2 separate regions of the Homo sapiens genome follow, and region 2 is linked to region 1. The links come from fine-mapping of genetic effects on gene expression. A gene starts in region 1. The other region holds a variant in brackets. All regions are shown on one strand. Distances are from middle to middle.

What was found. PIP is the estimated chance that this variant, and not a neighbour inherited with it, causes the effect.
Region 2: its variant is fine-mapped to the expression of MKNK1 in whole blood (INTERVAL, PIP above 0.99).

Annotation. Positions count from the first base shown.
Region 1 is chr1:46,594,767-46,610,638 of GRCh38, reverse strand. It overlaps MKNK1 (MAPK interacting serine/threonine kinase 1), which reads left to right and starts at 6,371. Exons shown (of 13, transcript NM_001135553.4): 1 at 6,371-6,454. It overlaps MOB3C (MOB kinase activator 3C), which reads left to right. Exons shown (of 4, transcript NM_201403.3): 3 at 435-637; 4 at 955-2,920. The coding sequence ends at 984. RefSeq lists a silencer at 6,190-6,409 and enhancers at 6,740-6,789, 6,557-7,057.
Region 2 is chr1:46,572,246-46,588,117 of GRCh38, reverse strand. It overlaps MKNK1 (MAPK interacting serine/threonine kinase 1), which reads left to right. Exons shown (of 13, transcript NM_001135553.4): 3 at 4,789-4,890; 4 at 7,491-7,588; 5 at 11,464-11,543; 6 at 13,098-13,171. The coding sequence starts at 4,791. Among named protein-coding and RNA genes, the nearest start is that of MKNK1, 24 kb to the left of the region's middle. The variant TTGA/A (reference allele first, on the strand shown) is at 7,312.

The sequences.
Region 1 (15,872 bases):
GGACGAGGCAGGTGGATCACCTGAGGTCAGGAGTTCAAGACCAGCCTGACCAACATGGAGAAACCCTGTCTCTACTAAAAATACAAAATTAGCTGGGCATGATGGCACATGTCTGTAATCCCAGCTACTTGGGAGGCTGAGGCAGGAGAATACCTTGAACCTGGGAGGTGGAGGTTGCAGTGAGCCGAGATCATGCCATTGCACTTGCCTGGGCAAGAGTGAAACTCCGTCTCAAAAAGGAAAGAAAAAAAGAAAGGAAGAAAGAAAGAAAAGTATGGGAGAAAGTCAAACCACTCTCTGTTTTCCAAAGGGAAGTGTACTAAAAAGTGTGCTGGGGAAAAAGCCATCCTGGTTGCCTGTGTGTGGGAGGGAAAAGTTGAGCAGAGCTTTGGCACCAGGATACTGATCCCCTTCTGCCCTCCCCTGCCCTCTAGGAGTTCCCTTCCCTAAGAACTTCCAGCAGGTCTGCACCAAGATCCTGACCCGCCTCTTCCGAGTCTTTGTCCATGTCTACATCCACCACTTCGATAGCATCCTCAGCATGGGGGCAGAGGCGCACGTCAACACCTGCTACAAGCACTTCTACTACTTCATCCGCGAGTTCAGTCTGGTGGACCAGCGGGAGCTGGAGCCACTGGTGAGGCCAAGCCCTACCACCCTCCCCTACCAAGGCTAGCCTCTGAGTTTTCACGTCCAAAAGCTGCCTGCTTTAAGTAACTCCAACGCCCAAGTAGATGAATTAGGGGAAGGCAATTCATTTAACAGTGAATTCTGTACTTCAATAGAGAATTCATTCAAGTGTTGGTTTACAAACCCAGATCTGCAGCCTAAGAGTTGGGGTTGCTGGGGGAAGGCCAGGCTCAGACAGAAGAGCAGCTAGGCCCTATGGTTTGGGAAGGGATTGCCTAGTAGGCTGAGCTCTAATTGACCCCTCCCTACCTTGTGTCTCTACAGAGGGAGATGACAGAGCGGATCTGCCACTGAGCCCAGGTCTGGACTTTTTTGGCCATCAGATGGACGATCTGAACATAGGGTGGCTGGCAGAGGGGACCCCCAGGAGCCTGAAGGAATCTGAAGGCACTGGAATCACTCCACACACCCAAAGCCTCTGGACTTCTGGTTCTCAGGAGTCTGCCTACCTGTCGCCCTGACCGCTTGTGGATGGAGAAGGGGAGAGCATCTAGGCAGGCAAACAGAAGGGAAGTGGAGTTAAACCTCTGGCATGAAGTCTGGGAGTAGGGTAGGCTAGGGGGTTTCTTCTATGACACTTGACCCTTCCATGCTGGTTCCCAAGCCTATTGGAGGAATGTGGGTGTGGCCGAGGTGATGGCAAGAAAGGTGCAAGAAAGTGAGCAGTCTGCCTGTGAGTGAGCACAGATGCCGGGGTGTGTGTGTGTGTGTGTGATTTTCACTGTGGGGTGTGTCTGTGAGAGCTAGCTGCCTTACCCCTCCTTGGCACATAGTAGGCCTTCCATAAATGTTGGATGGATGGATAAATAGATTGGGACCATCAGACCATGGGACCATCAGACCATGACCACTGTAGGAGTGATGACAGCTCAGCGTCCCCACTCAGTGTATCTGACCATGTGTGTAAGTGCACAAAAATGTGGTTGTAGATGTTGCTCTACATTCAAACCTTCCAGGCTACACTCTTCCATCAGCATGAGTCCTGGAGAGCTGGGGGAACGTAGGAAGAGGAGCCTTGCCTTGAGTTCCTAAACCGACCCACTGCAGACACAGGCTCTGATTCTCTTACCCAGAGATGCCCATGAGCTGACATTTTACTCATCCCTCTGCCTCCAAGAAGGCCTGTATTATACGTGTCCTCCTGGGGGTTGGAGATGATCCCTCAAGTACACAAAGGTCCCCTGGCCCTTCATCTGGGAATCATATACTCCACTCTAGCTCCCAGAATCTACAGACCTGGCTCCTCGGATCTGAAGCCCAGCACAAAATAATCTCCCCGTCCAAGGAGCTTGTGGAACTTGAATTGGGAACTTTGGAGTCTTGTCTCCCATCCCAGCACATTGAGGATGTAGTTGGTGAATGGACTCTTCCAGGCATGGAGATCCTCCATCCTAAAAGTACCTGCCTCCTTCCCAGCCATCCCTGACACATTCCAGCCAGTTGGATCTCACAGCACAGCTATCCACAGGGAGACTGGGATGTTCACGCAGCACTCCATTACTCAGTACCTCCATACCCAGCCCTATACGCAGACCCACAGGTGGGGAAACTGAGGCAGGAACAGGGTTCTGCCCTCCCAGAGCCTCCACTCTGGGATGCCAGAATGGAAAGCCAGAGGGAACCTGAGAATCATCCAGTCTTACTGTCTCAATGTACATACGGGGAAACTGAAGCCAGGAGAAGAAGAGGGAGAAACTGTCCAGGGCCTCACAGGGAGGCATTCATGGAGCTGGAGAAACCAGGGATCCTGACCGCAGGGCCCATCAATTGCTACATAGAGATACACATGGAAAGAGGGTTTAACAGACCCTCTCTAGGACACAACTGTTTCTGCTTTGAGCAATAATTTCTAACCTGAGGCCAACATGTCCCACTGCCCCTTGGGTTGGCTGGGGTTGTTTCCTGAGCCAAGCATCCAATATCATGCCCCACTCAATGGCCTAGAAGCTGCCTGTACTTTGGGGAAACAGATGGAGCTCTTGGGCCCAGCCAGCTGGGCCTGGGACTTCTGCCTCTGCCGCCTCCAGAGTGGCCTGGCAGCTTTGCCAGAGGCTGTGGAGCGAGGGTAGTAGGAGCTTTTCCCAGAGTGCTGTGACTTGCATGATGGATTCTAGGCTGTGGCAAGGGCTGATTTCTGGGATAGGGGGAGGGTTGGAAAATTTATTTTTATGAAACAGAGGGAAGACTTTATTGTTGTTATTTTTGGTAAAATAAAAGGCAAACTAAAGCAGCCACTGGTGGGAAGCGGTGATCTGGGTGCCACATGGCTCTTGGCAGACCATGGAAGGAACTGAGCCAGAATGGGGCTGGGAAGGCTTTTTGTCCTGAGATACTGGACCATGTGGAGGGCTGGCTGGTGTGGTCATGTCTGGCCCAGCTCTCTAGGGTGGGGACACAAAGATTCTCCTGGGGCTCTGGAAATTCTAGACCGAGCTAGGCTAGGACGCTTGGGGTGGAGAAGCCTGGCTTTTCTTTGCCTTCCGGGAACTCAGTCTGATAGGAATCGTTCCTTGTTTCATCTCAGGTTGCCTGGCATTGGCTATTCTTTTTTTTCTTTTTCTTTTTTTTTTTTTTTTTGAGATGGAGTCTTGCTCTGTCACCCAGGTTGGAGTGCAGTGGCGCGATCTTGGCTCACTGCAAGCTCCGCCTCCTGGGTTCATGCCATTCTCCTGCCTCAGCCTCCGGAGTAGCTGGGACTACAGGCACCCACCACCACGCCCAGCTAATTTTTTTGTATTTTTAGTAGAAACGGGGTTTCACCGCGTTAGCCAGGATGGTCTCGATCTCCTGACCTCGTGATCTACCCGCCTCGGCCTCCCAAAGTGCTGGGATTACAGGCATGAGCCACCACGCCTGGCCTGGCATTGGCTATTCTCACTCCAGCCCCTTACTCTGGGTGGTTTTTTTTTGAGGTAGTAGATAAAAGGACAGAGTGGAAATACAATCCCAACACTAATTACAGGACAGGAGGCCATCCTGAAGAGGAAGATACTTGTTGCTGGCTGGAGCTACGGTGGGGGTGGCAGGACATGGGCCTGACTCCTGAGCTTACTCCCCAGTAGACATCTGCATCTATTGGCTCAGGTCTTGCTGTCATTCCACTGCCCCAACTCACAAGCTGCCTGGGCAGGAATTAAAAAGCAGCTTGGTTCTTAAGAGTCAACAAAGGCCCATCTAGAGCTCTTCCCTCTTCCTGCAAAGGAGCCAGCCTGGCTTTGTGCAGAGGCTCTCCTGGGAGGCAAAGGCATAGGTTGTAGCCCCAGCCCAGCTCCTGAAGTTCCATTGCAAGCCCATTCCCCCTCTAGACCCCAACCCTTCATCTATTTTGTTATCAGTGATGGGAGTGAAGGACTGATTGATCTCAGCTCCTTCATTATATAGTCTATGAATCATTCACAGTCATCATAACAGCTAATGTTCATTATGTGTCAGGTACACTTCTAAGTGCTTGACATATAATAGCTTGTTGAATCAAGTGTGTCTTTGGCCAGCTGCCTTGCTTCCCTTCCAGCCCCCAATATCCCTGCCTTTAGTCACTCCTCTAGAATCTGGAAGGCCCTCCATTCTGCTGCCTCTTCCTCTGGCTCACCACAGGAGGCCCAATCCCAGCATTCTAAAAGGGTGCTATTTGCACACCTCCTATAACAGATCGCTCACTACCTCCTCTGTCATTGGACAGCTCAGACTGTTACAAGTCCCATGCTTTGGGTTCATGGTCATTTTGAAATATGACCATGGCAGTGAGAGTAGATTTATCTTAGAACTGTGTGACCCAAGACCTGCACCTTACATGAGAATATCTGTAAATACATTAGGAAGCTGACACAAAATTGCTTTGAGAGATTCACAGAGGGATGCTTAAAGAAGAATAGACAGAAAGGAAGAGAAGGGGAAAAGAAAGAGATAGGGCCTCAATGATGCAGATAAAAGAGCACACTCCCATGGGGCAAAACCTAGTAACAAAGGGTCCTGGGAGGTAGAGTGGCAGCTTGGTTGAGAAGTCAGGCTGGGCTTTATTTTCCTGTTGGCTCAAGGTCCATAACAAAGCTGGGCATAGTGGCTCTTCCCTGTAATCCCAGCACTTTGGGAGGCCAAGGTGGGAGGATCATTGAGCTCAGGAGTTCGAGACCAGCCTGGGCAACATGGCAAAACCCTGCCTCTAAAAAAATTCAAAAATTAGCCAGTCATGGTAGTGCATGCCTGTAATCCCAGCTACTCAGGAGGCTGAAGCAGGAGGATCACTTGAGCCCAAGCAGAGGTTGCAGTGAGCAAAGCTGGTGCCACTGCACTCCAGCCTGGGGAACACAGTGAGACCTTGTCTCAGAAAAAAAAAAAGAAAAAAAATTCCAAAACAATATTTGGAGCAGGGACCTAGGTAGTAAGCCATCCTCTCCAGCCTGGGGCAGAGCATCCACCTATTGAGTAAAGGATGCCGCATCACCCTCGGCTCCCATAAACACTGCAGCCTCTGAGGTTTCCTGTTGCCTCTCCTCCCTACCCCACAGCAAGCTGTGGAATATGTGGTGAAATAAGCCACAGTCATGACTAGAGCTCCACCTGCTTTGGGGGAGCCCTCCTTCCTCTGAGCACCCCCAGAGCCCTCAAAGATGTTAACTGAATTTGATTGCCATGTGAGGGACATAGCAACTTTGAGAACCTGGAACATAGGTCCTGAATCTCTTGGGCTATTGCCACAGGCAACAGGGAAGGGAACAGGCCAGCAGGGCCTCTGAAGACTTGAAGCTTGGATCGGCCTCCACGGAAGGTAATGAGTGGGAGAAGTCAGGATACATCGGGGCCCTCAGGTTGGACCGCAGGATTCCAGAAGGGAATGAACACAGAAGCTTGATCTTCCGCCTCTCCGGCCTTCACCCAGATTGGGAAATCTAGCAAAGTCCTGAATGTTCACTAATATTCCCAATCTCCTTCCATCATACAGATGAAAAGACAGCCCCGACAAGACAGGGAACAAATGTTTGTCAGGTGGATGATGGGAAGCAAGTCCCTGGGGCTCTTTAACTAGCTTGGCTTACCAAATCCTCACGATAATCCTGAGACAGGCAGGGAAGGGATGTTCACCTCCATCACTCGGAGTCAGCGCCTGAATTAAATCCCAGTCCACACTCTCATCCTTTCTCATCGCAGCTGCAGACTTGGGAAGGGGATGTGGGGAGACTGGTTGAGGCATTAACCTATTTACAGTTGTTTTTCCCCAAGAAATGAACTTTTAAAAGTTTTAAAAATTTTGAAATACTGGGGATAATGTTGTACTCAAGGAGAAACTCTTATGGTGAAATTCTAGGCACTCAGACTTTTAAAGAAATTGTACAGAATTGGCCCCCGTTTTAGAAAAGACTAGCAGCATTTCCCCACATATAAAAGGCATTTTAAAATTCCTTCCTGGCCTGCAGAAGCTCTCAGTACATGTTAATTACACCTGTCGCGCCCGGCCTCCTACCTTCCCGGGCTTCTCCACCCTCCATTCGGAAAAGAAAGCGCCGGAGGAGCTAAGCCCCACCCGCTTGCCAGCAATCTCCCCTCTCCCCGCCTCTTCCCTGTCACGCCTGCGCAGTTCGCTCAGCTCGAGCCCCCTGCCCTCAGGCGGCCCTGGGTAGCCATCAGGGCGCAGGCGCAGCTCCGCCCCCTCACCCTCCTCTCTGATCGGGCCCACCCCCTGGATCTAGCACCGCCTCTTCCGCGTTCTCGGAGGAGCGATCTGCAGGTAGGGGTGCGCGCGACCGCTCCCCGGCGGGAGCCAGCGAAGGTAAAAGCGAGACCTGCGAGGTATTCCTCCGAGCTAAATGGGGCCGGGGTCTGTGAGTGAGCTCGTGTGCCCGGAAGGGGGCAGTCAGGGCCTTCACGGCTGCCCGAGGTCACGACGCGATTCAGCTGCGGAGGGACAGCCTAAGGGGACGCTTTTCAGGACTGTCCCGAGCTGTCTGCGACCTCTGTGCCTGGGGTCGGGGCGTGGCCGGTGTCCGAGATGGCGCTTACTCTGTGGCCCGTTTGAGACTCAGTCTCTCCCAGGGATCAGGACCGAGGCTATGGCTGGGCGCAGGGCTCAGGCAGTCCAGTATCATGAATAGTTTTTCACGTGAGGAATTTGTGAAATCTGTGTACTGCGTTATTTTTAAGTTAATTGTTTTCATTTATTTTCAGTATTTAAAGGCTCCTGCCTGTGTGGATGGCTGTCCACAGGGAAAGGTAATAAGAGTGTCAGGTGCACCCTGTCTTCTAGAGAGCTCCAAGCTCCCTGACAGTGGCAGATCAGAGGCAGGCAGGCTCACAGGAATGAAGTGTTGTTAGAAGTGCTCAACTTCAGGGTCAGGGAGTCCTGGGTTTAGATCTCATCTCTTCCACCTCTTAGCTGTGTGTCCTGGGGCAAGTCTGCTTCCCCTCCCAGAGCTTCACTTTCTTCCCTAGGAAATGGCCATAATAGGGTCATTGTGAAGGGTGAATAGGATTATATGGAAGTCACCTAGTATGGCGCCTGTCATGTAATGGGTGCTGAATACATGGTAGCTGTGATTTCTAGGAGCTTGGTCATTTTGGATTGGGGTACTTTAGAAAGGCTCTGAGAGAAGAGTTGTTGTGACCTGGGCCTTGAAGCCTCAGTGGGATTTACAGATGGAACTGACCCTGCAGAATGGGAAGGGCACCACTGCCCATGCGCCAGGCACATGCTGGACAGTAGGTGTAATGTCTCACTGGATCACCACCCATCAGCCAGGTGCTTTCAGCCCACTCTCCTTAGCTTCAGCCCTTCATTAGAGGGCTGGGCTGGAAGTGATGTGAAGAGGAAATCCAGGGTTGGGTTTTATATGGAACTGAGCCAGCTAGAGGCTTTGGTGCCCCCTCTGCCCATCTGCTCCCACCTCAACACTTCTCTCTCTGTAATCCAGAGAGTTGGTTAGGAGTCCTGTTACTCTGGTATTTTGCAGATGTTGACAGTTGTGGGGGATGGCAACTCAGATTGCATGAAGCGAAGCCATGGGAGAGGGAAGCTCTGTGAACAGGAGCTGTCAGAGCCCAGCACGTGCTTAGAAAGTGCATGTGGTCTCCTGTAATGTGGTCCCAGAGTAATTGAATTACTTAGTTCCTTTTGCATCCTCTTCATGGGTGCCCTTGTGCTCTTCCTGAGACACTACTCGGAAACCTTGGTGGGCATCATTGCCTACTATATAGAGCAGTGGTGTCCAATCTTTTGGCTTCCCTGGGCCACATTGGAAGAAGAAGAACCATCTTGGGCCACACATAAAATACACTAACATTAACAATAGCTGATGAGCTTTAAAAAAATTGCAAAAAAATCTCAGTGTTTTAAGAACGTTTATGAATTTGTGTTGGACCACATTCAGAGCCATCCAGGGCCGCGGGTTGGACAAGCTGGATGTAGAGTTTGGACTCCAGCCTCAGACAAGTTCCTGCACAATTTGTTCCCACACCTCTCCCCTCCCTGTTTCCCTTGGTTTTCCCAAACCTGCAACCTGTGCTTCAGTCAAAATAAACTAGTTGTCTCTGTTTCTCCTTTTTTTTTGAGATGGAGTCTCACTTTGTCACCCAGGCTGGAGTGCAGTGGCACAATCTCGGCTCACTGCAACCTCCACTTCCCAGGTTCAAGTGATTCTCCTGCCTCAGCCTCCTGAGTAGCTGGAATTACAGGCATGAGCCACCACACCCGGCTAATTTTTGTATTTTTAGTAGAGACGGGGTTTCGCCATGTTGGCCAGGCTGGATTCAAACTTCTGACCTCAGGTGATCCGCCTGCCTGGGCCTCCCAAAGTGCTGGTACTACAGATGTGAGCCAACGTGCCCGGCCAAATCTCTGTTTCTCAAACACTCCCTGCATGTTCCTGCTCGAGCCTTTGCTTATATTCTCTCTTCCTGGATTTCCCTCCTCCTCCTCATCTTTCAAGGCTTACATCTCTTACATCTCATGTGGCCTCCATGGTGAAGCTTTTCTGAGCCTTCTGCTGGATTAGTTGTTCCCCTTTCCATCTTCTGTAGCAAAGGCTGACCCTCTAATATAGCTCTCATCATAGTCTGCCTAGGGATATGTACACTCCATATGTACTCTGAGTACGTGGGTGGCAAGGGACCATGTCTCTTTCCTTCCTCCTCTGTCCAGCATAGGGCCAGCACATAGTAGGCCTCTTCAGTGTTTGTGGTTAAGTGAGTCAGTGACATTTTTTATTTACTAGGTTTGGCCCTTGTTTTATGAGCTGTCAGGTTCAGAATGGGACTTTGTGTTTTTCCTCCTCTTTGTGCCTAAGGAGGGCCCCAGTTTAGACTGATGCCCTAATTACAGGCATCAAAAACAAGAAAGTACAAGAATTCTGCACAAGCAGGCATTCTTCATTGCAGCCATTGTTTTCAGGCTCTTGTCTTGCCTTGACCGTGAGTTTTGTTGGAAGGTAGGTAATGCTGTGTTCAGAGACCTGCACTGGGTGTATTAATAGTACAGTTCAAACAGGGGAAAGCTCACAGGTGGTTTTCTAATCAGTTTACTCTGCCCTTGGCCTTGGGAAACAGTGGTTCCTCCCATCTGGGGACCAGCAGCTATAAATGCACATTTTCCCTTGCCAACAGCCTCAGCATGTGGAAGAGAAAGTTATTTCTTGATCAGAGAAAAATTTACATGGTTGAAGGTAGAAGGAGCTTGGAAACCAACCATCTGGTTCCGCCACTTTCATTTTATAGATGGGGAAAGGACTTGATTGAGATTACACAAGGAGGCCGGTGTGTGGCTCACGCCTGTAATCCCAGCACTTTGGGAGGCCGAGGCAGGTGGATCACCTGAGGTCAGAAGTTCGAGACCAGCCTGACCAACATGGTGAAACCCCATCTCTACTAAAAATACAAAAATTAGCTGTGCATGGTGGTGGGTGCCTGTAATCCCAACTATTTGGGAGGCTGAGGCAGGAGAATCGCTTGAACCCAGAAGGCAGAGGTTGCAGTGAGCTGAAATTGTGCCATTGCACTCCAGCCTGGGCGACAGAGTGAGACTCTGTCTCAAAAAAAAAAAAAGATTACACAAGGAATCAGTCAGTAGTGGAGATAGTTCTAGAAGTGAAATGTCATGACTCTGTTTTTTCAGTCTACTACGTTGTTAATACAACATCGAACATTTATTGCACACTTGCTGTGTTCCAGACACTGTTTTTAAAAGTGTTTTTAACTCTGTGTTATAGCTTGGAAACTAAGGCAGATCATTCAGATCTATTTTCCAATTCCACAACTCTGGGTTTTAGTGTGGTTTTAATGGCAGTCACCTCCTACCCAGTGGGGTGGAACAGTTCTCCAAAGAGCTTGCTCCCAGATCTCCGTGAGTGAGAAGTGTTGTCCCAGCAATGTCTCCTTATATGCTGGAGAGAGATCCCAAGAAGAGTCCAGAGTGTATTGGAAGAATGGATGAAGGAATGAAACAAGCCCACATGAGTATTAGCGGATCTTAGTTTAGGAATATTCATGTACTTCAAAAATTGCCTATTTATCAAGTTAGGCAGTAAATGCAGTTTTAGAATGAACTCAGTCTGGGATCTTTCTGTAAAGATTCCCAGTATAGGATGGAAAGATTCAATTCGGTAAGCACATATTGAGCTCTTGCTATGTACAAGACCCTGGTATTGAGAAATATACACAGAGGAAAACAACACATTTCCTGCCCTCCTATAAATAATTGTCTTCTCAGAACCTTCTCCCTCCAGTGTAGTTGGGAAGATAGATAAGTACATAAATAACTGAAATCAGACTGACTATGGTAAATGTAGTAAGGAATGTAAACAAAGTGGGAGTTTGGAAGAAGGAGAAATCAATCCCAGCATGACCAGAGGATTCCTGAAGGTGGAGAATTTATGCTGGGCCTTGGAGGGAGTTTATTCCTGGGAGAAGGAACAGCTTGAGCAACAGTTGAGAGGCAGAAATGCTCAGGTGTAGGGGTGTGTGTGTGTGTGTTGTGGGAGGGGAGAGGAGTTGGTGAGGAGAAGAAGTAAGCCGAATTGGCAGATTTTGGCTAAAATGTAGAGAGTGGAGTAGGGAGCAGAACACTAGCATTTATAAAGTGTCTCCTTTGCTTTGTGGCTTGCAGTATGCTGGTTGCTTTACATACTATATTTAATCCTGTAATATAGGCCTATTTATCTCCAATCTAAAGATGAGGAAACCAGACCTCAGAAAGATTAAAGTGACTTCCCCAAGGTTAGATAGATAGTAAGGGCACAGCTTGGTTCAAAACTAGCAGTGCTGAGTTCAAAGGCCCATGTTATCTTCCTTATGCTAGAGGCTCCAAATGCCCTGACTGGCGCTCGGTTTTCTCTGGCAGCAGGACGGAGGTTAGACTGGAGCAAAGATGGTCCCAGAATGGGGACATCAGTGAAGAGGCTTAAACGGTGAATCACTGGCCTAGTTTGGAAGCTGCATGGACTAGGTCTGCTTGATAGGTTTAATAGGTGATCATTTTGGCAGCACCCACAGTGCCATAAATCAGTGCATTGCCATCCTTAGCTAGTAGAATCTTAGAACCAGTTTACAGAAGCTGCAGGACCCTGGTATTTCAGGCATGGGTTCTGATGGGAGATTGACGTTACAAAAGGGTCTGTCGGGGGAGGCAGCCTGTTTGGCACATCCTGTCTCTTCATTTTCTCACCCTCAAATTCAACAAGAGTCTGTAAGTAGGACAGAGCACTAACTTGGAGTGCAGAGGCTGGCATTCAAGTCCTGCACCTGCTCATTATCATCTGAGAGTCCTCAGTCTGTTTCTTTCCTTTGTATTTGCTGTCAGATTATTCCCTCCTGCAGCCAGTTATGGTTCACAGAGTCGTTGGGTTGCTTTCCAGAGCCACAGCTGATCTGGGGAAGCCATATCAGAAGCGGGAATAACAGTTACTAGTTATTGGGTGCCTACTGTATGCCAGGCACTGATGCCATGAGCTCCATATACATTAGCTCACTTAATTCTCATGACAACTCTGTGATGTGGGTGTAATTGCCCCCATTTTATAGATGCTGATAATCAGAGGAGTATTTTGGTTCACTTCTGAGGCCTCAACTCTTGCTAATGTCCTGGCTTGGGACTGTATGAGGAAGAACTGAGAATATAAACAGGATTCAGAGAGACTAGAGTTTATATTCCAGCCTCTCATCCTTACAGAGAGACAGTAGTTAGGTATGTGGACTCTAGAGTCAGGCTATCTGGGTTTGAGTCCTGGCTCTGTCACTTGCTACCTGTGTGACTTGGGCAAGTTATTTAATCTTCCTGAGTTTCTGTTCCTTCATCTGTAAAATGAGAATACAAATATTACTTACCTCATGGGGTTGTTATGAGAATTGAGATACAACAGCACAGTGCCTGGCACACAGTAGGTGCTCAATGAATGTGAGCTTTAATAGTAATAATATTAATAAATATATGAATGCCCAGTTTGGTACTGTTTTTATAGAAAGTATATTTATTAGGGCCATTTTCCCTTCCCCCGCATTGTTACCTTCTCTTTCTTTCCATTGCCCTGTCAGGAACCTTTGAGATACTAGATTGTTCCAGCACATGGTTGCAATGCATAACATGGCAGAAAGTGCCTGTAGGAAATGGGTCAATAAAAATCAGTGGCTCGTTAGAAAATCTTACCTGACTTGTGTTTTCACCTCTCTCCACAGTAAACAGGAACAGAGCAGCACATATATTACTTTTTTCACAGCCTTCAACAAGAGTGCCAAGCAAGACTCCTCCAATTCACTTGCCAAAAGTACAATAACAGTATCTCTGGAAAAGTGGTGCCTAATTTGGTTCTTCTTTCTGTCCAGCTTAAACCCTTCAGGCCTTAACTTAAGCCATTTCTTCTTGTTCCATTTTCCATGAATATGGAAAAGTTTCTTCTGATTTTAAAGGGAGGATGAGATCAAGATTTTCTCATGAGAACCTTTTCTGTACTTAAAGCCAGAATCCAGTTAAACCTCATCTTCTCTTCTCCCGGCTAAACAGCCTTGGTCTCTTTAACCTCACTCTTAAAACCTGTTTTCCATTGCTTGGATCACATTGGTCATGCCTCTTTTCTTTCTCTTCGGTTTTTCTGCTTTGTGGCAGTGACCCAGACTGTACTCGGTCTTCTAATAAGAGTCCAGCTAAAACAGCTTAAGGGAAGAATAACTTCAGCTGTTTCCATCCATTCATTAACAATTATGAAGTGGTTGCCCCATACCAGAGCCTCTGCTAGGTGTAGGGGTCCCAGAGATGAAGGAGACATAGTCTCTACCCTGTCCCTGGCTAACAGTCTAGGGGAAGATGCGTAATAAAATGTTACAGGTAATTTAATTATGCACAAGTGTAGGAAGCTGGGAATTGGTTAGAGCAATCAGGTGGAAATACAGTCCCTTTTGACGAGACTGCAGGTTAAGACTCCCATAGAGGGTTGGTCTGGGACAAGTTGATGGAGGCCGTGAGTGACAGCACAGAAGCTTGGTTACTCCAGAGGCAGTGGACACCCATTAGAAGTTTTAGAGCAAGGAAGTAACAGGTCGAGATCTGGCTTTTTGGACCAAGGGTAGAGATGCCATAAACCTTAGCCTTACCTGTGCCTCACTGATGTTTTCTGTCTTGAAAGTAATGTGATGGATCTTTTGTTTGTATACATGGTGATTTTTTTTTTTTTTTTTGCTCTAAAACGTCTGTAGAAGGTCTAGTTCTTAAGCACTGAAGAAATTTAATTCCCAGTACAGCAAGAAATTCATGAACAATTGAGAGAGAATTGGGTGCCTCGCCAGGCCCAGCCTACTTAAGACCCAGCTGCAGGCCGATGGATCTGTGTAGGTTTGGTCTGGCCATGGTCACCCTTCCCCACCCCAGCCCTATACCAGCAGGAGGTACAGGAATGAGGAGAGGGCTCCAGGGTCCATCTGGGTAGTTGGTAAAGAATGCTAAGAATCTTTAAGAACTGTGAGAGTCAGAAGTAATTTTTGAGGAGGAAAAAGGGACCAGAGGAATTTTAAATGGTGCCAGAAGGAATTAGGGCTAACCAGGCACTTAGAATCCTGTGACATGTATCTGAAAACCTCCACATTCTCTCTCTGCCTTTGTATTTGCTGTCAGTTTATTCCCTCCTGCGGCCAACTGTGGTTCACAGATTGGCTGGGTTGCTTTCCAGAGCTGCAGTTGATCTGGAGAAGCCATGTCAGAAGCTGGAATAAGAGTTACTATTGAGTGCCTACTGTATGCCAGATACTGGTGCCACGAGCTCTATATACATTAGCTCACTTAATTGCCATGACAACTCTGTGATCTAGGTGTTATTGCCCCATTTTATAGATGATGGTAGTAAAGCTCAGAGAGTTTGAATTTTATGTCCAAGGCTACCCGGCTGGTAGATGGTAGGGCCAGAACTGGAACCTAGGACCTAATGCCCAAAAGCCCTGTGCTTTCTACTTCCCCAGCCTAAGGTGGCTCCACGTGGCAAAATAACACAAAGCCCATAAGGAATTCTGAGGGGTTTTTTTTCTACTGTAGGCCAAGGGTTGGCAAAGTATGGCCCACAGGCCATATTTGACTCACTGCCTGTTTTAGTGTGGATGCAAACTAATGTACTTTTTACATTTTTATGTGGTTGGGGAGAAATCAAGAAAAGATCAATATTTTATGACACATGAAAATCTATGAAATTTAAATTTCAGTGTCCAAAAATAAAGTTTTATTGACATATAGCTACAATCATTGATTTACATATTGTCTACTGCTTTCTCTCTACAAATGCAAAATTGAGTCATAACAAAGATCATGTGACACACAAAGCTTAAAATATTTACCATCTGGCACTTTACAGAAAAAAAATTGCCAACTCCTACCATAGGTAACAAGAAGGGACCAGGTGGGGGTCTAAACCTATGACAAGACTAAAGACAGAATGGAAGCTCAAGGCCAGGCGTGGTGGCTCACGCCCATAATCCCAGCACTTTGGGAGGCTGAGACAGGCAAATCACGTGAGCTCAGGAGCTCAATACCAGCCTGGGCAACATGGTGAGACCCTGTGTCTACAAAAAATACAAAAATTAGGCGTGGTGGCTCGTGCCTGTAGTTTCAGCTACTTGGGAGGCTGAGGTGGGAGGATCACTTGAGCCTGGCAGGTGGAGGCTGCAGTGAGCCAAGATCATGCCACTGCACTCCAGCCTGGCTAATGGAGCCAGATCCTGTCGTTGGATGGTGTTCAAGGCTGTCCCTGGAAGTGTGGTAGTAGAAGTGAAGAAAGAGAGCATACCCTGAGTTTCCTTAGGCCCTGGAAACAGTTTTACTGGGTTTCAGATTTGTTTGGGAATAAAGAGCATAGTAGGAAGGACTGTCCAATGTGCTAACATCTTTATTGGATGTTAAAGAGATATTTCGTGTATTAAGTAATTCATTCAGATTCACTAGAGCCCATTTTTGCCAGATACTATGTTAGATGCTGGTAATGCAAAGATGAAAAAGGTAAGTGCTTGCCTTTGAGGAATAACTGGCAGGATGACGTGATCTGATAGGGAAGAAGAGAAGTCAGAGGAAGGAGGCAGTGGGTGGGGGTTGGGCACAAGTCCCACTTGGGGCATGTGGTTTGAGGTCATGGTGAAACACACCCAACTTCCAGTTAGAAAGCCTTTTTAGAAATTTTGGCTCAGAATTCAGAGTTAAACTGCATTTTCAGGGCTTTTCCACCGAGAAAAGGGGAAATGCATATTTATTTCATAGGGAAGTTGACAAAGCAACTTTGACTTGTATAGCTAGAGCCATGGTATTAAAATAACAGTGAACATAGAGAAAATGAAGTCATCAGATTGAAAACTAGCAATAATTATGTATTCGACACAAAACCTTGTTCCCATTCATGCCACCTCCTGCTCTCAGCATCTACTTTATCTTTCGGGCTCTGTTTCCTCTTGCCTGTGAGACTTGGACTTGGCCACTAAGAGAGAGAGCCCAGCTCATTTCTCTAAAAACGTGGATAGCAGAGGAGTGCCTCGCTCTGTCACCCAGGTTGGAGTGCAGTGGCATGATCTTGGGTCATTGCAGCCTCGACCTCCTGGGCTCAAGCAATCCTCCCACCTCAGCCTCCCAAGCAGCTACAGGTGTGTGCCACCATGCCTGGCTAATTTTAGTATTTTTGTAGGGATGGGTTTCACCATGTTGCCCAGGCTGGTCTTGAACTTCTGAGCTCAGTCAATCCACC
Region 2 (15,872 bases), 23 kb after region 1:
TTGGCATTGGGTAGGTTATTTAATCTACTGGCTGCCTGCTCTGAGCTTCTTTCCTTACCTGAAATATGGCAAAAATATTTACCTTTTGAGATTATGATAAGAATTAGAGATAATATGTACAGAATATCCATGTAGTTGGCACTTTTTAAAATTGTAGCGTATTAGCAGTTTTACGTATTTCTGTCTAGTCTTTCTACTCTGTTGGGTTCATATATGGGCATACATACCTGTGCATATGCATATGTTTTTGGAAACATATTTATGTGAAGTATATCATTGGGTATTTTTTGTTTTTTTTTTGAGACGGAGTTTCACTCTTGTTGCGCAGGCTGGAGTGCAATGGTGCGATCTCAGTTCACCGCAACCTCCGCCTCCGGGGTTCAAGCAATTCTCCTGCCTCAGCCTCCCGAGTAGCTGGGATTACAGGCATGCACCACCATGCCTGGCTAATTTTGTACTTTTAGTAGAGACGAGGTTTCTCCATGTTGGTCAGGCTGGTCTCAAACTCCCAACCTCAGGTGATCTGCCTGCCTCGGCCTCCCAAAGTGCTGGGATTACAGGTGTGAGCCACCACACCTGGCCATCATTGGGTCTTTACAACAACCTGTGAGGTAGACAGGGCGGGTGTGTTTTTAAACCTATTTGATAGATGAGGAAACTGAGACTCTAAGAGGCACAGTAACTTGGCCTTGGTTCTGTTATAATATCTGAACCAGGGCTTCTGCCTTGCTCGCCTGATGCCAAGCCTGTGTGCCTTCCCTGTCAGCAAGCAGCATGCTGCTTCTTCAGTTCCACTTCCACCTCCACTAATAGACACATGTGGTGGACCGCCGAGCCGTTCCCAAGAGGAAGGCAAGGGCTGGAGGCAGCGGAAGTGCTGGGAGCCTCCAGACCAGCTGGGATCTGCCTGAAACTGAAAAGAAGTGCTCACTTCTTCCTCTGTAATAACAGACACATTGCCCAATCCTATAGCAAGAACCAGGCTTCTGTTTAGAAAGTGAAGGACCTGGCTGGGCGCAGTGGTTCACGTCTGTAATCCCAGCACTTTGGGAGGCCAAGGCAGGCGGATCACCTGAGGTCAGGAGTTTGAGACCAGCCTGGCCAACATGGCGAAACCCCGTCTCTACTAAAAAGTACAAAAAATTAGCCGGACATGGTGGCATGTGCCTGTAGTCCCAGCTACTCTGGAGGCTGAGGCAGGAGAATCGCTTGAACCCGGGAGGCAGAGGTTGTACTGAGCTGCACTCCACTGCATTCCAGCTTGGGTGACAGAGCAAGACTCCATCTCAAAAAGAAAAGAAAAGATAAGAAAGTGAAGGACGTTTTGTGTCCTAGACCCTTTTTCGAAAGGGAGTTTATCCAGGAATTAGTAGAATTCCTGAACTGGATTCATAAAACTAAGTAGCCTTACTCTGCATTGTCTACAGGGCAAAGTTGTACCCATGTTTCTTTCAGGATGTGCACTGGGTACCTAAAAGGCCAGTGTGACATACCCCACACCTAACAGTATGCATGTCATTTCATATCATTTCTATTTCAGTGCAATTTCTGATGGCTGCTATGTGTCTGACACTGTGCCATGATCTGTAGGAGAAACAAGTGAACAGGGGACAATCTCAGCCTTTAGGAACACAGGGGAGCACTCAAGGCCAAATAAAATCAGTGCCCTCGTGGAGCTTCTCGCAGGGTGTTTGGGAGCAGAGGATGGAGCACCAACTACTAGTTCTGCTCAGTAACACCCTCCATTTGCATAGCACCTAACTGACTTCCAGAGTCTCTGTAGAAACCTTAACTCATCTGGAGTTATCAGGGAGCTGCAAAAGGGTTGGGACTATCGAGCCGGCTTTTGATGACCAAGAAGAATTCCTAGGCCAAGGGAAGCAGGTGAGCCAAGGTGCAGCTTTACTGCGGGGGTCCCACTCCCTGAGGCAGCATTTATCCCATGAGTGTTTGCATGATGAATTAAGGCCCCACAGACCTGCTAGTGGACTCTGTGATGAAAATAGTGTGTGGCCAGGCTCCACATGGGCAACTAGCGACCCCTTGGTGAGATTATGACACCTCTCGCTTCCCCCTGTGTAACCAGGGAAGCTAAGCATGTTTCTTTCACTTCACCCATCTTCCTACATTTTTTCCTTCCTAGTTTCAGAAACAACTCTCCAAGTTCCATTTCCAAGGAAAGTCTTAACCATTTGTCCCTTCTGGCGTACCCTCTTTCATTGAAATCCATGCAGAATATACCAGGTACTCTGTCTTTGTGTGTGTGTGAAGCCATAAAATCTAATGTTACGTGTGCGGTGGTGCTGTGAGGTATGCTTCTCGTGCAAGCGGCTCCCTCAGCCCTGCTGTGGTAAAGACCAAGTATAAATTGTCGCTAACAGGGTTTTCTCATTAGAGTCGTGTGCCTGAGTGTCCCCTGTGAATTATAATGCCTCCAGCCCTCTTGCTGCTCCTCTGCTCTGCCTGTCTTTTGGCTGTTTTGCTTGTCCTGGGGCCCTCCATCAAAGTGTGGACAGGGGAAGGAGAAAGAGCTGAAACCCAAATCTGTTTCCTCTGCACTGGGCCTGCGGTGCCGATGAGAAAATAGATGCAGACACGGGTTGCCACTGGACTGCATTCAAGGTCAGCGCAAGAGAGAGAGACAATGGTTCCTCCTTCTCAGCCTGCTGCCCCGATGGCCAGCACCCCCTCCCTGAGCTCCTGAAGATGAGTGACCCTGTGTTTTATTTCTGCTGAATTTCTCACCATGTTATACATTTGGGCAGCTTTTTTCCTTTTAATTTACCTTGGTGAGGGTGGGTGTTGAGGTGCTGATTTTTTTTTTTTTTTTTTTTTTTTTTTTTTTTTTTTTTTTTTTTTTTTTTTTTTGAGACGGAATCTTGCTCTGTCACCCAGGCTGGAGTGCAATGGCGTGATCTCGGCTCACTGCAACCTCTGCCTCCCAGGTTCAAGCGATTCTCCTGCCTCAGCCTCCCGAGTAGCTGGCACTACAGGCACCCGCCACCACACCCAGCTAATTTTTGTATTTTTAGTAGAGACAGGTTTCACCATGTTGGCCACGATGGTCTCGAACTTCTGACCTCAAGTGATCTGCCTACCTCGGCATCCCAAAGCGCTGGGATTACAGGCGTGAGCCATGGTGCCTAGCCAGATGTTTAATTCTTTCAATTCATAGGGTGTTGCAGTCCCCAGATATATCTTGTGTTTGAAGCTCTTGGCTAGAGTTATATTTTGAGATGCTCTGTGGATTTCTTTTATCTGTGTGTTTATCTGTTCCCCATTCTAAACTATAATTTAAAATGTGCTGTCATCAGATCCCCAAAATGGATGGAAGAATGCGCCTAAATTGAGCTGTCAGGCACTTGGCTGCGTAACCATGCTTTCTGGATTGTGGTGTTGAAAGTGCCATCCTGTGTGCTCTCTCCGGATGGCTGTCACGTACTTGCGTCTGAGAACAGTGTATGGACCTGCATGAGCACTAATCAGTCTTCCTAGCAGACTTGCTCTTTCTCTGGTCGTATGCCGCCAGATCCTCTGAGAAGAGAGTGGGCCTTTCCCCTCAATGGGCAAAGAACCAGCTTCCATTTTAAAAGCTCTCAGAAAAAAAAGAAAGAAAAAAAAAAAAAAACACCAACAACCAAGAGCCTGTGTTTATTGAAGGTTGGTCTAAAAGTCTCTCACATCGTATGCCCCATCAGCACTCGAGTGCCTCTATTTTAGAAGGATGTAAAGGTTTAATCACGCTGGTGGGGATTTAGACCCAGAGACTTCGGAGAAATCTTATTATTTCTAACTGCAGGCAAAGAGTATTAAAGCTCCACTCTGGATCAGGGGCATGACATGTTCTATAAGTAATTTATCTTTAACAGGGAAAGGCCCATACTAGAGTGTCTTAGAAACAGGACTGTGATTGGGCACTGGTTCACTGTTCCTCCTTTTCTCTTTCCTATCTCAGTGTCCTGCTTATTCTTTCCATCCGGACTTTTTCTGCCCAATCTGTGCAGTGTCTGAATGCCTGCCTCACAAATCCTCCTTTTAAGATTGGGAGCCAGGTGCTTGCCAATGAAAGATAATAAGGTTTTTTGCAATAAGTGACCTCATCCAGCAGCCTGGCACAGACCTGTCAACTGCCGACTTCTGAATGGGCACTACCTGCAGCCCTTCCGATGGAGGAGCTATGGGAGGAGAGGATGCCGTAGGCTCCATAGGCACTCAAGTCCGTGCTCTTGGACATGAAGTAATTTGGGGCTATTTTGAACCCCAGCCCTATTGCTACCTTCACAGAGGCTGTCTCCACTCCAGGCCATTTGTGCCCTGTGTGCATCCATAGCGATGTTGCTGAGCCTATGACTCATCTGCATGGTCCCCCACTCCCAACCCCCTTCTTGCCTAGCTCTCTCGGTTTTGCCTTTCTGATGCTGAGGCTGGAGGATGTCACAGGTGGGGTTCTGCCTATGGAGTCATTGTTCTGTTTGGGGAATATGGTTTGACCAGTGGCAGATCTAAATCCACGCGCTAATGAGCTTGGTTAAAGCAGGCTTCCGCTGGCCTCTTTTAATCTAGCCTGCCTGTCTGAGCTCCTTTCCACAGTTAATGATCTCCCATAATGGCTTTGCCTTTAGTTTTTCCTCCTAGGTCAAAACAAATCAATAGTCTTCACAGATATTTAAAAACCATCAGTGTAAACCTCCTGGGTCCTCCCCCACTACCTTTTTTTTTTCCTTCTGGGTAAATTTACAGCTTGATCAGTACAGTGATGTTTCCCTTACATCTCCTCTTATCTCCTAGAGATGGGCAGTAGCGAACCCCTTCCCATCGCAGATGGTGACAGGAGGAGGAAGAAGAAGCGGAGGGGCCGGGCCACTGACTCCTTGCCAGGAAAGTTTGAAGGTTGGTCACACAACTTCCCTATATCTGGGCCTGCAGCTTCCCAAGCATGGGAGGAGCATCCCGGGAGCCACAGGTCCGATCACAGAATGCGTCAAGTTAGAGCCAGATGGTGGTTATCTGTGTGGTAGGGAGATAAGATGGGGATGAGGGAGTTTACACAGGGCATTACAGAAAGAGAGCAGGGATGGAAAAAGCTCTCAGATGATGCACTGGCCTCCTGTGAATGGCTCAGGTACTGCTTCCTTTTCAGGGAGCAGGAAGACCCATCTATCAGTGGCATTGCCTGGGGTCTTCCTTTTTTCAGATGTGATTCTTCCCTCAGCTATTCCTGGAGGGGCTGCTGAGAGATAGAACTATATAAGAGGAAGAGAGAAACACCAAAGGCCATGGCCGCAAATGAAACTTCAGTCTCCTGTAAGCAGAGAATTTGTCTCTCAGATTGTAGCTACTTATGCTGTGTGTGTTTGACTACATTTTAAAGAATACGTGTTGTGTTCAGTAGAAACGATGTTGGGTCATCAGACATTTTTTGACACTCTCTGTGTGCGAGGCACTAGGCTCAGTGTGGGTCCTGTTATCACTGGGCATGTGATGGGGTGATTGGACACTTGTGCAAAGCACCAAGAGGATCAGTAGCTACTCCTAGGAGTAACGTGCCCCACTTCATCTGTTTTGTTTTCTTTCGTTGTGAGGTCTGAAGTAGCTTCGCCTCTTGGTCCCTCCTTCCAGCCTTCCAGACACACTAGTGAATTGGCTGTTCTGTAAAGTGGTTCCAATAACAAGCACTTTATCGGTTGGGAATATGGGACCTCCAGCCACCCACCTATCCTGATATGTGTAAAGGGCTAATGCCAATGTGTCCATTGTGAGAAGCATGTCATTTAAAACACTTACGAATAACAGTGTGCCATCTGCTCTTATAAACAACTGAAAGACCAAACCGTGATGGAACCAAGAAGGTACTTTCAGCAGGGGTTTTTTGTTTGCCTTTAACTCAAACAGCAGGGGTGTGTGTCTGTGTGTGTGTGTCTGTGTGTGTCAGGGTATGGGGATGGGGGAGAGACAAAGATCCCAAGGTATTCAAATAGTTTCCTAATCAACAGCTCTTTTGCTCTTTCAGTTAACACAAGAGAGTACTTCCTATTTTTAAGGACAGCTTGTGCAATGACAGGACTTCTCCTGACTGAGAGTGATAAAATCTAATTCATGGTTGAAATGTCTTCTGCTCAGGCTGTGGGTTTCAATGCTAGGTGCCTCAAGAGGAAAAGGCTGAAGAATGGAGGCCGAGTGGGGATGAGGTCAGGCAGCTAGTGCTGTGATGGAGATGTAGCCTCCTTTGGAAGGGGCTCAAAGAGCTGTGCTCTTTGTGAGCTTGGGCAGGTCATCTAGATGTTCCTTTAACCCAGGTCTATTACTCTGTTAGAACAACTATGACTCAGTACCCTAAAAACCTCAAGGTGTCCTTTGCATCCTACTTCTATTTCCTGTGGGTGACTTCTGGAGACTTCTCAGAAGCCTCCAATGACTTCCATGTATGGGGTATAAAATAGAACAGTGTTTTATTCTCCTTTGTATAGCCAGTGCTTACACAGAACTTGGCACATAATAGGTGCTCAGTAAATGAGTAAATGAATATTCATTCAAATCATACCACTTCTCCTCTGATGATCCTCCAGATTCTCTGACCAATTTTTTTTTTTTTTTTTTTTTTTTTTTTTTGATATGGGGTCTCACTCTGTCACCAGGCTGGAGTGCAGTGGCACGATCTTGGCTCACTACAACCTCCGCCTCTCGGGTTCAAGCGATTCTCCTGCCTCAGCCCCCGAAATAGCTGGGACTTTAGGCGCGTGCCACCACACCCAGCTAATTTTTGTATTTTTAGTAGAGACGGGGTTTCCCACATTGGCCAGGATGGTCTCGATTTCTTCACCTCTTGATCTGCCCACCTCGGCCTCCCAAAGTGCCGGGACTACAGGTGTGAGCCACCATGCCCAGCCTCTCTGAACAGATTTAACCCTTTCTTCCCCCAACTTTTTTTTTTAACTGTACTTTGTCCCTCTGTGATAGTATTTACCAATGCCTGGTTTATTCTGGGGTCACCTGTGTATGTGTCTGTCTTCCCCACTGGACTGCGACCCTTAGAGGAGAGGGATCATGCGTATATATATTTTAGAGATGGGGTCTTGCTATGTTGGCCAGATTGGTTCTGAACTCCTGGCCTCAAGCAATCCTCCTGGCTTGGCCTCCCAAAGTGCTAGGATTACAGGTGTAAGCCCCTGCACCTGGCCTTTATTTTATTCCTTACTCTGTTATGCTGTCTGGCACATAGTAGATATTCAGGAAGTATGTGCCGAATTGAGACCCTTTTGCTAACCTCATCGCTAAAATGAGGAACAGGATGCCTTGTATGTGGTCTTGTTG[TTGA/A]GAAACTGGGTCCTCAGGTGGCTGGGAAAGCTACTTGTCTTCCTTGTCACTGAGTGCTAGAGTCATTGGGTGCCTGTGTCGTCTGATCAGGGAAGCTGAGCCACAAAAGTTCTTCCCATCTGAGCTTGCAGTAGGGTGACTCATCTTGTTATTCCTCTCATCCATTTCACCTCTAGATATGTACAAGCTGACCTCTGAATTGCTTGGAGAGGGAGCCTATGCCAAAGTTCAAGGTGCCGTGAGCCTACAGAATGGCAAAGAGTATGCCGTCAAAGTGAGTGTCTCAGCTGAATGCCAGGCTTTACTTTGCAAATAGTCATTCCTAGCTCATCTTGAACCAAATAAATGTTATATTCCATAAGAATGGGGACTCTGAAGCTGTATTCACTGGATTCAAATCTTGGTTTCTCTACTTACTGTGTACCTCGGGCAAGTTACTTAACTTCTCTGTCCTTCAGTTTTCTCATCTGTAAAATGGGTATAATACTAGAACCTATGTAGAATTGTTGTGAGGATTAAATAAGTTAATATAGGTAAAGTGCTTAGCACAATGCCTGGCTCATAGTAAGTTTCTCATTATTCTGACAAATGAAGTCAGCTTCAGGGAGTGGACAACCAGATTTGGAATTAGAAGGCCTACCTGAATATCTATTTTGACAAACTATAACTGTTTGACTTTGGGCAAGTCATCAAATGTCCGTAAGCCTCAGTTCCTACATCTCTAAATGATGATACCTGCCCTTCAGTCTCCTGAGGCAGTTATGAAGATGAAAATTAAAATATCCTGGGAGAGGTGGAAACACTTTACACGTCACAAAATGCTATCCAAGTGTTAGATGTTAGCATGATAGTGAGGATTAAAAACTAAGGTGACTGATTTGGTAACATCTGAATGATGTCTCAGAAAAAAAAAATTAAAAGAAGAAAACAAAACTAAAGCGACTGAGCACTCAGTTTTGGGGCAGGAGAAGTGGCTTCTGGCCTCATTGCTGCCTTTAATTAGCTGTAAGGCCTTGGAGTGGCTCATGTCACCCCTCTGTGCCTCCACTTGCCCTCTCCACATGGAAGAAGAGCTGGATCTTGAGCAGTGGTTCTCAAAATGTGTGCCCTGGACCAGCCTCAGCATCGCTTGGGAACTTGTTAGAAATAGAAGCTACCTGGCCCTACCTGAGAAGTACCAACTCAGAAACAGGGGTGGGCCCAGCAATACAAATGTTAACAAACTCTCCTGGTGACTCTGACACTCACTAATCCTTGAGGACTACTGTTGTAGGAAGGGCAGTTGTGAATGCTACTATGTGTTAGAAGCCCTTAGAGCTCTAACAAAGCACACACAGATCCAGGTTTCCAGATGTAGGATAGGGTCTGGATCTCTGTGGCTTGACCAGATTCCCCACTTGAGTCTCATAGCCACCAAAGTTTGAGGACTAACTGACCTAGAGAAAGGGTCTTTTTAAATCCAAGCTGATTTCAAATCACCCACCTGAGCCACCAGGTCAAATGCCACCTCACATTGGCAATCCCAGCCCAGTGGGCTCCTGAAGGAAATGTTTTCTCTTCTTTGAACCAACTTTCCACAGTCCCAGCTGCGGGTTAGAAGGTTGAGCAAGTCTGCTAAGCCACGTTCCTTTCAGCTGGAGTATTGCTTCACATGGTAACAAGAGCACTGTCTTAATTTCTTTTGGGAAACAGCTCAGTATAAATTACAAGTGATTTTTAAAACATACGCCTAAGTGTAAATAGAAAAATTAGGCCAGGCATGTGGCTCACACCTGTAATCCCAGCACTTTGGGAGGCTGAGGCGGGCTGATCACCTGAGGTCAGGAATTCAAGACCAGCCTGGCCAACATGGTGAAACCCATCTCTACTAAAAATACAAAAATATTAGCCGGGTGTGGTGCATTCCTGTAATCCCAGCTACCTGGGAGGCTGAGGCAGGAGAATCCCATGAACCCGGGAGGTAGAGGTTGCACAGTGAGCCGAGATCACACCACTGCACTCCAGCCTGGGCGACAGAGCAAGACTCTGTCACAAAAAGAAAAAAAAAATGTTAGCCTGGTGTGGTGGCATGTGCGTCTAATTCCAGCTACCTGGGAGGCTGAAGTGGGAGGATCACTTGAGCCCAGGAGGCAAAGGTTGCAATGAGCCAGGATGGTGCCACTGCACTCCACCCTGGACAACAGAGGGAGACTCTGTCTCAAAAAAAAAAAAAAAAAATTGATATATCTGTCTAAATGCGGTAAAAACCACAAACATAAACTGATTTTCAAAGGTTTCAATACATTTATGGATGAGAGGTATATTTCTTCAAGGTTGGATAATGGGAGGAAAACCTGGCCCTTCCTCCACATCCCCCCTGGCATCTTTGAGGCAAACACTGGACTCTGGCTTGGCAATTCCTTGGTTTCAGCAGTTCTGCCCATGTTTCTTCTCTCCCCTACTCTTTCAAAGCTCCCTAGAGATGGGCTACTTCTCCCAACATGGCCCCACAATACTTAGCTTATTACAGCTTTTCCTATAGGCACCCAGCTGATCCTAGACTCTCAAGGTTGGGATGGAATTTCAAGATAACCCTGAATTTCCTCTGACTCCCCAGATAGTTGTCCATGTTCTGCTCCCCCATCTCTAGTAGCAAGAGCCCATTACTTCCTCAGAGAAGACTGTGCTGTGGAAGGCTTGCCTGCTAGAAAGTTCTTCATGACTTTGATCTGAAATGCTTGGGGAATGAAGTTGAATCACTTCTGTTCCCCAGCACTACACCTCTCCATTCAGATAATGGGCCCACTGTGGTTTACAAACAGACACACTTATTTAGAAAATTGCAGTTGGTCACAGATGTCTGTGCCACATCATATCGGAGAAGTTTGAAGTCTCAATGAAGGAAGAGGATGTCATTGTGCTGCCCACTGTGCACGTTGGAGCTGTAAGGCAGAGCTAGGCTCTGCAGATTTGCTCACAGGCTCGGTGTGCAGTGGTTTGAGGCTCCAGATGGGTCCAGAGAGCTTTGCAGAGGCAGCCAGTCCCTTTGGAAACCACCCTCCCATCTGTTGGCTTATCTGTTCCTTCAGTCAGCATTTGACAAGCATCTCAGGTAAAAGTGTGGAGGGGGAGCAGCCCACCGTATCACAGGAGAGACAAAGCCTCCAGGTCCTCGAAGAAGTTAGAGCATCTAAGCAGGTATGGGATAGCAAGGGCTTAGGAGTCAGCTCTGGACTGCAGGCAAATGTTTCATACCTCCCTATCTTTTGATGTTGTCATAAAGGTCAACTGAGATTATGTAAATAAATTATTATTGTTTATTTATTTATTTATTTATTTATTTTTTGAGATGGAGTCTCTCTGTTACTTAGGCTGGAGTGCAATGGCACAATCTCGGCTCACTGCAACCTCCGCCTCCCCAGTTCAAGTGACTATCCTGCCTCAGCCTCCTGAGTAGCTGGGATTACAAGCACCCACTACCACGCCTGGCTAATTTTTTTGTATTTTCAGTAGAGACGGGGTTTCACCGTGTTGGCCAGGCTGGTCTAGAACTCCTGACCTCAGGTGATCCACCCACCTCAGCCTCCAGAAGTGCTGGGATTACAGGTGTGAGTCACCACACCCGGCCGTAAATAAATCATTTAACACAGTATCTGCCAGAGAGTAAGTTCTCAGAAGAGGAAGAGCCTACTTCTGCCAGGGGGATCGTGGAGGCAGCCTCTGAGCTGGGTGTCAAAGCTTTAGCTCCTCGCCACGGTGTCCTGCATCAGCCTCTCCCTCCAGCATGAGAAGATCCTTCAGTAGATGCAGTAAATGCTTACCCTTAAGGCAGAAAGAGGTGTCCACAGGAGGTGGAGCTGAGTAAGGTAGCTCTTTGTCTTGCCGGCTGCCTCAGTCTCCCCTGGGCAGCTGGGGGCAGCAGCCTCATTCACTTCCTTGGTGTTGTGCTTGGCCAGAGTGGAATGGGCTCAGCTGAGCTGGAAAGCCCTGAGGCCAGTCTGCTGCTTTGCCAACAGAGCCACAGTGCCGGTGTCACCAAGGCCTAGGCCAGACTTCTGCTGGACACTGGATTTGGACTGAGTGTGGCCTTGCATTCTCCCAGAGGACTCCTGCCAAAGGGCTGTTTGGAAGTCAGGTGGGTGTACATGACAGATTTTATTCTTCCCACAGATCATCGAGAAACAAGCAGGGCACAGTCGGAGTAGGGTGTTTCGAGAGGTGGAGACGCTGTATCAGTGTCAGGGAAACAAGTGAGTATCATGTGATTCTCGCTGCTTCTCTGGGGGGACGCTTGGCCACAGAAGAGGAGGCTATTTCTTACCATCTCCTGACTCCAGCATTTAGCTCTCACTCCTGTCCCCACAAGGCAGGTACCTCCTTCCGCCCCTTTCAGTGTTAGGGAGAGAAAGGAAAAGCAGCAGTAACAGCAAAGGAGCTATTATCTCTTCTGAAATACTGTAAATATCATCAATTCAAGCAAGTTAGAAGAATGAACTATCTGAATCAGTGGTTGTTGGGGGGAAATGGGGTTTTATTTCTTTCGGTACCTGTGGAAACTAGGTTGACTGAGTGTTGCCTGGTAGAAATCTTTAAGGACTTGCCTTAATACCAAGATGAGGAGAACTGTTAAGAATATTTGCTGCTGTTTCTGCTCCTAGAATGTTTACATATGTGCAGATACCACTAAGATCCTGGAACCTTCCAGATAGCTGGGTCCGGCTCATCTCTAGCCCCAGTTCATTCTGCCCACCACCAGCTCCAAATGAGCAGCTCTCCCACTGTGGCTTTAAATCAGGGGCACCTCTAAGACTCCACTTCCCCCTCTCTCCCTCCACGGTAGGGTCAGCAGGGAGCCAGTGGCCTGGTATTGATGGCTTTGTCATTAAGCTTGGAGGATTGGAGGACGGGGGCTGCTGTTGATTTAACTCCAGGCACTGCCTCCACAATCTTCTTTCAAATTAGGCCATTTTGCCCATCTTATTTGGATGCCTTCACACTAGTAAAAGCCTCATATCTCCCAAAGTAGTCAGCATTTTTTTTATGAGGGACAGATTTTTATTTTCAGCCCTGCAGCTTCTTAGTTCAGCATTAGAGACTCTACTTGGTTTATTTTATTTTGTAAAAGAAAAAAAGCCCACAACACCTCCAATATCCAGGCTGGTGGCTTCCCTACTGAGTTACAAGACGACCTTGTTGGCAGAGCACTGAAATACTCGGGCAGACAGAGAGTGCTCACCGGGGAAGGCCACAAGTGCTACAGTGGCCAGGAACGCGGCCGTTTCATTAAGCAGCGCTTAGCAGTTAGGGTCTAGCGGTGCCCATGTTAGGCCCCAAGTCCATTTGACAGATGTTTCCATTTTCTCCAGGCAATGTAAATACTGCCCCGTGATTTATGGGCAAGAGGGAGGGCAAGTAATTATTTGCTGCTTGCCTCCAGGACACACACCTAGTATTCAGTGTTATTAGCCGCAATTGCTTCCAGTCGGCTGCAGATTTTATTCAGTTTAATGTGACCGGGACTTTTTTATAACTCTACCTAGTGGGTTTTAGGGCTGGGGTTTGACAGCACAGACTTGGTGAAAACACCAGAGACTAAACATTATGGAAAGATAAGGTGACCTGAATCTTGCTAACACCATTGGCTGCTTCCATACGCGGGTCTTTAATAAGCATTCTGATTTCAAGTTGGTTTCTGCCCCACTACCAGGTGTTGTATATTTTTTTCATTGTATATTTGTAAGTAGACTTTAATATATAATACCATTTCCCCCCTTTTCCCTCTCCTCCTATTTTCCCTATTTAAGGAACATTTTGGAGCTGATTGAGTTCTTTGAAGATGACACAAGGTTTTACTTGGTCTTTGAGAAATTGCAAGGAGGTACTTACCGTTGAGTATGTGTGTGGACTTCTGATTAAGACCCAGGGTGGTGATCATCCATCATGAATCCCAGAGACTTCCAAAACGAGTCAAGCTAATAAAAAGGATGAAGGACTTAAAAACTGCCCTTGATTTGGGAGAAGGGAGGCCGGAGGGAAGGATGATAATTAGCATTTTGCAGAGCTTAGAATGTCACCTGTGTGGGTATTTTATAAATGCCTTTTCATTATAATAGGAGTCATATATAGATACATTTAGTCATCGATTTATCAATCCCGTTTTGACATGTTCACTGTTTAACTACATTAATTATGGGGTGGAAGCTCTCAAATACATTGCGAAGTCTAGAAAGGCTAAAACAGAGGAGAGGAGGGTCCTATTGTTTGGGACACAGACCCAGGATAAAGGGGAAGCCTGAGAATGTGCCATCCTTCAGATGGAAAGATGCCATCACCCACACACATAATCACTGGGGTGTATACTTAAGTTGCTTTTCTGACATAATGAGGTGGGGTAGAGAAACCCTTTCCCTTCCCATCACTCCCCCAATCTTAGGACACACTTGCAGGGATGTCTGGAACTGCATGGAGGGCCACACGGAGGGGCTTGGTGGTTGAGGGAGCGTGCTTTAGAAACCAACACAGCTAAAGCTTATGTTATGTCTAGCTGCATCACTTACTAGCCATGTGATCTTGGGCAAGTCACTTAACCTTTTCTAAACAATATTCCCTTCTATAAAATAGAGATATTGATAGCACCTACCTCACTGGGTTGCTGTGAAGATTAAATGAGATAATTCATGTGAAATGCTTAGGACAGTGTCTGGTAGGCACTAAGGGCCCAATAAATGTTGGCTGCTAATATTATTAAAACAATTTGGTATGCTGGGGGATGTCTTAGAAGTATGTAGAGTAGACCAGGTACAGTGGCTCACGCCTATAATCCCAGCACTTTGGGATGCCAAGGTGGGCAGATCACTTGAGGTCAGGAGTTCAAGACCAGCCTGGCCAACATGGTGAAACCCGGCTCTACTAAAAATACAAAAATTAGCTGGGTGTGCTGGCACATGCCTGTAATCCCAGCTACTCAGGAGGCTGAGGCAGAAGAATCGCTTGAACCTGGGAGGCAGAGGTTGCAGTGAGCCGAGATCGCACCACTACACTCCAGCCTGGGCAACAGAGTGAGACTCTGTCTCAAAAAAAAAAAAAAAAAAGTATGTAAAGCATTATTCTCTGCTTTTCCTTTTAACAGATTTGGAAACGAGGCTCACTACAGCAGAGCAAGCTAGGACCTAGTCATGAGCCGGTTTTCTGGGAATGTTCCCTAGCACATTGGGATCCGTTGTTTAATCTGGCAAGCGAACAATCTTTGGCAGTTCTTCCCCTTCTCTCATGCCCTCCCCATCCCCCCTAAAAAACAGTAGACATGTGCCATTTTTAGGACAGAGAGATAATACCTTCAGCCCAGAAATGCTGGCTTCTAGTAGTAAACATAAACCACATGAAGCCAAGCCACATGTTCCTGCCTGTGTCTGCCCCTGCACCACCCAATAACACATGACTGACTGTTAATTACATGTTTGAAATGCTACATGCAGATGGGATCCTCTGTCGCCATATCAGTAAACTTAATGTAGCTTATTGAGGCCAGACCCAGTGTGGTTGGCTCAAGAGAGTCCATCCCTGCAGCAGTCAGACCACAAGTCCTGCTGGGGGATGTCTGCACAGACTCGGAGGCCTGACTGACGCCCTGGGCCTAAGTCCTGGCCTCACCCCTTACTGGTGCGTAATCTTGGGCAAGTTGCTCAACCATTTTTCTTTTTGGCTTCAGGATCTCCCTCTGTAAAACGAGAATAAGTGTACTACCCATTTTGTCCAATTGTGGTGAGAATAAGACAGTTTATTTCAAGAGTATTCCATAGCACATGGCACTAGTAACTACTCAGTAAATGTTAGCCATTGCCAACAAAACAATAATGAATGGGAAAGCTCAGGCGGAAAACCCATTTTTCCCCCCTTTTCCCAGGCCTTTACATGTCTGGCAAGGGTGTGGCATTTCCATTTGAAAGTTTGTGCTCTTGTTTGGATCAGAGATCAGATGCAGGGGAGAAAACGTTGCTGCAGAAAGGCCCCCTCAGCTCCAAGTGCCTTCAGTTTTATTCCTTTTGATTGCAGAAGCCAAATCAGCCTCAGCATCATTAGTGTTTTTTGGCCCTATTTATAGTTGTTCTCTCTCGCTTCTGAGCTCCTCATAGACAGGTACAGAAGAGAGTAGTCCAGTTTTGTTTAACAGACATACAAGCTGGTACCTCCTCCGTACCAGGCCCCACACTTGGAGCTGGACAGGTAGTGATGAGTCAGCGATGAATCCCTATGTCCCCACCCCAAGTTTTCCAAACTTGGGAAAACTTGGCCTCTAAGAAGTTATACGGCCAGGCGCAGTGGCTCACGCCTGTAATCCCAACAGTTTGGGAGGCTGAGGCAGGCGGATCACTTGGTCGGGAGTTCGAGACCAGCCTGACCAACATGGTGAAACCCCATCTCTACTAAAAAAAAAAAGTACAAAAATTAGCTGGACATGGTGGTGCCTGCCTGTAATCCCAGCTACTCAGGAGGCTGAGACAGGAGAATCGCTTGAACCCGGAGGCGGAGGTTGCAGTGAGCCGAGATCGTGCCACTACTCTCCAGCCTGGGTAACAGAG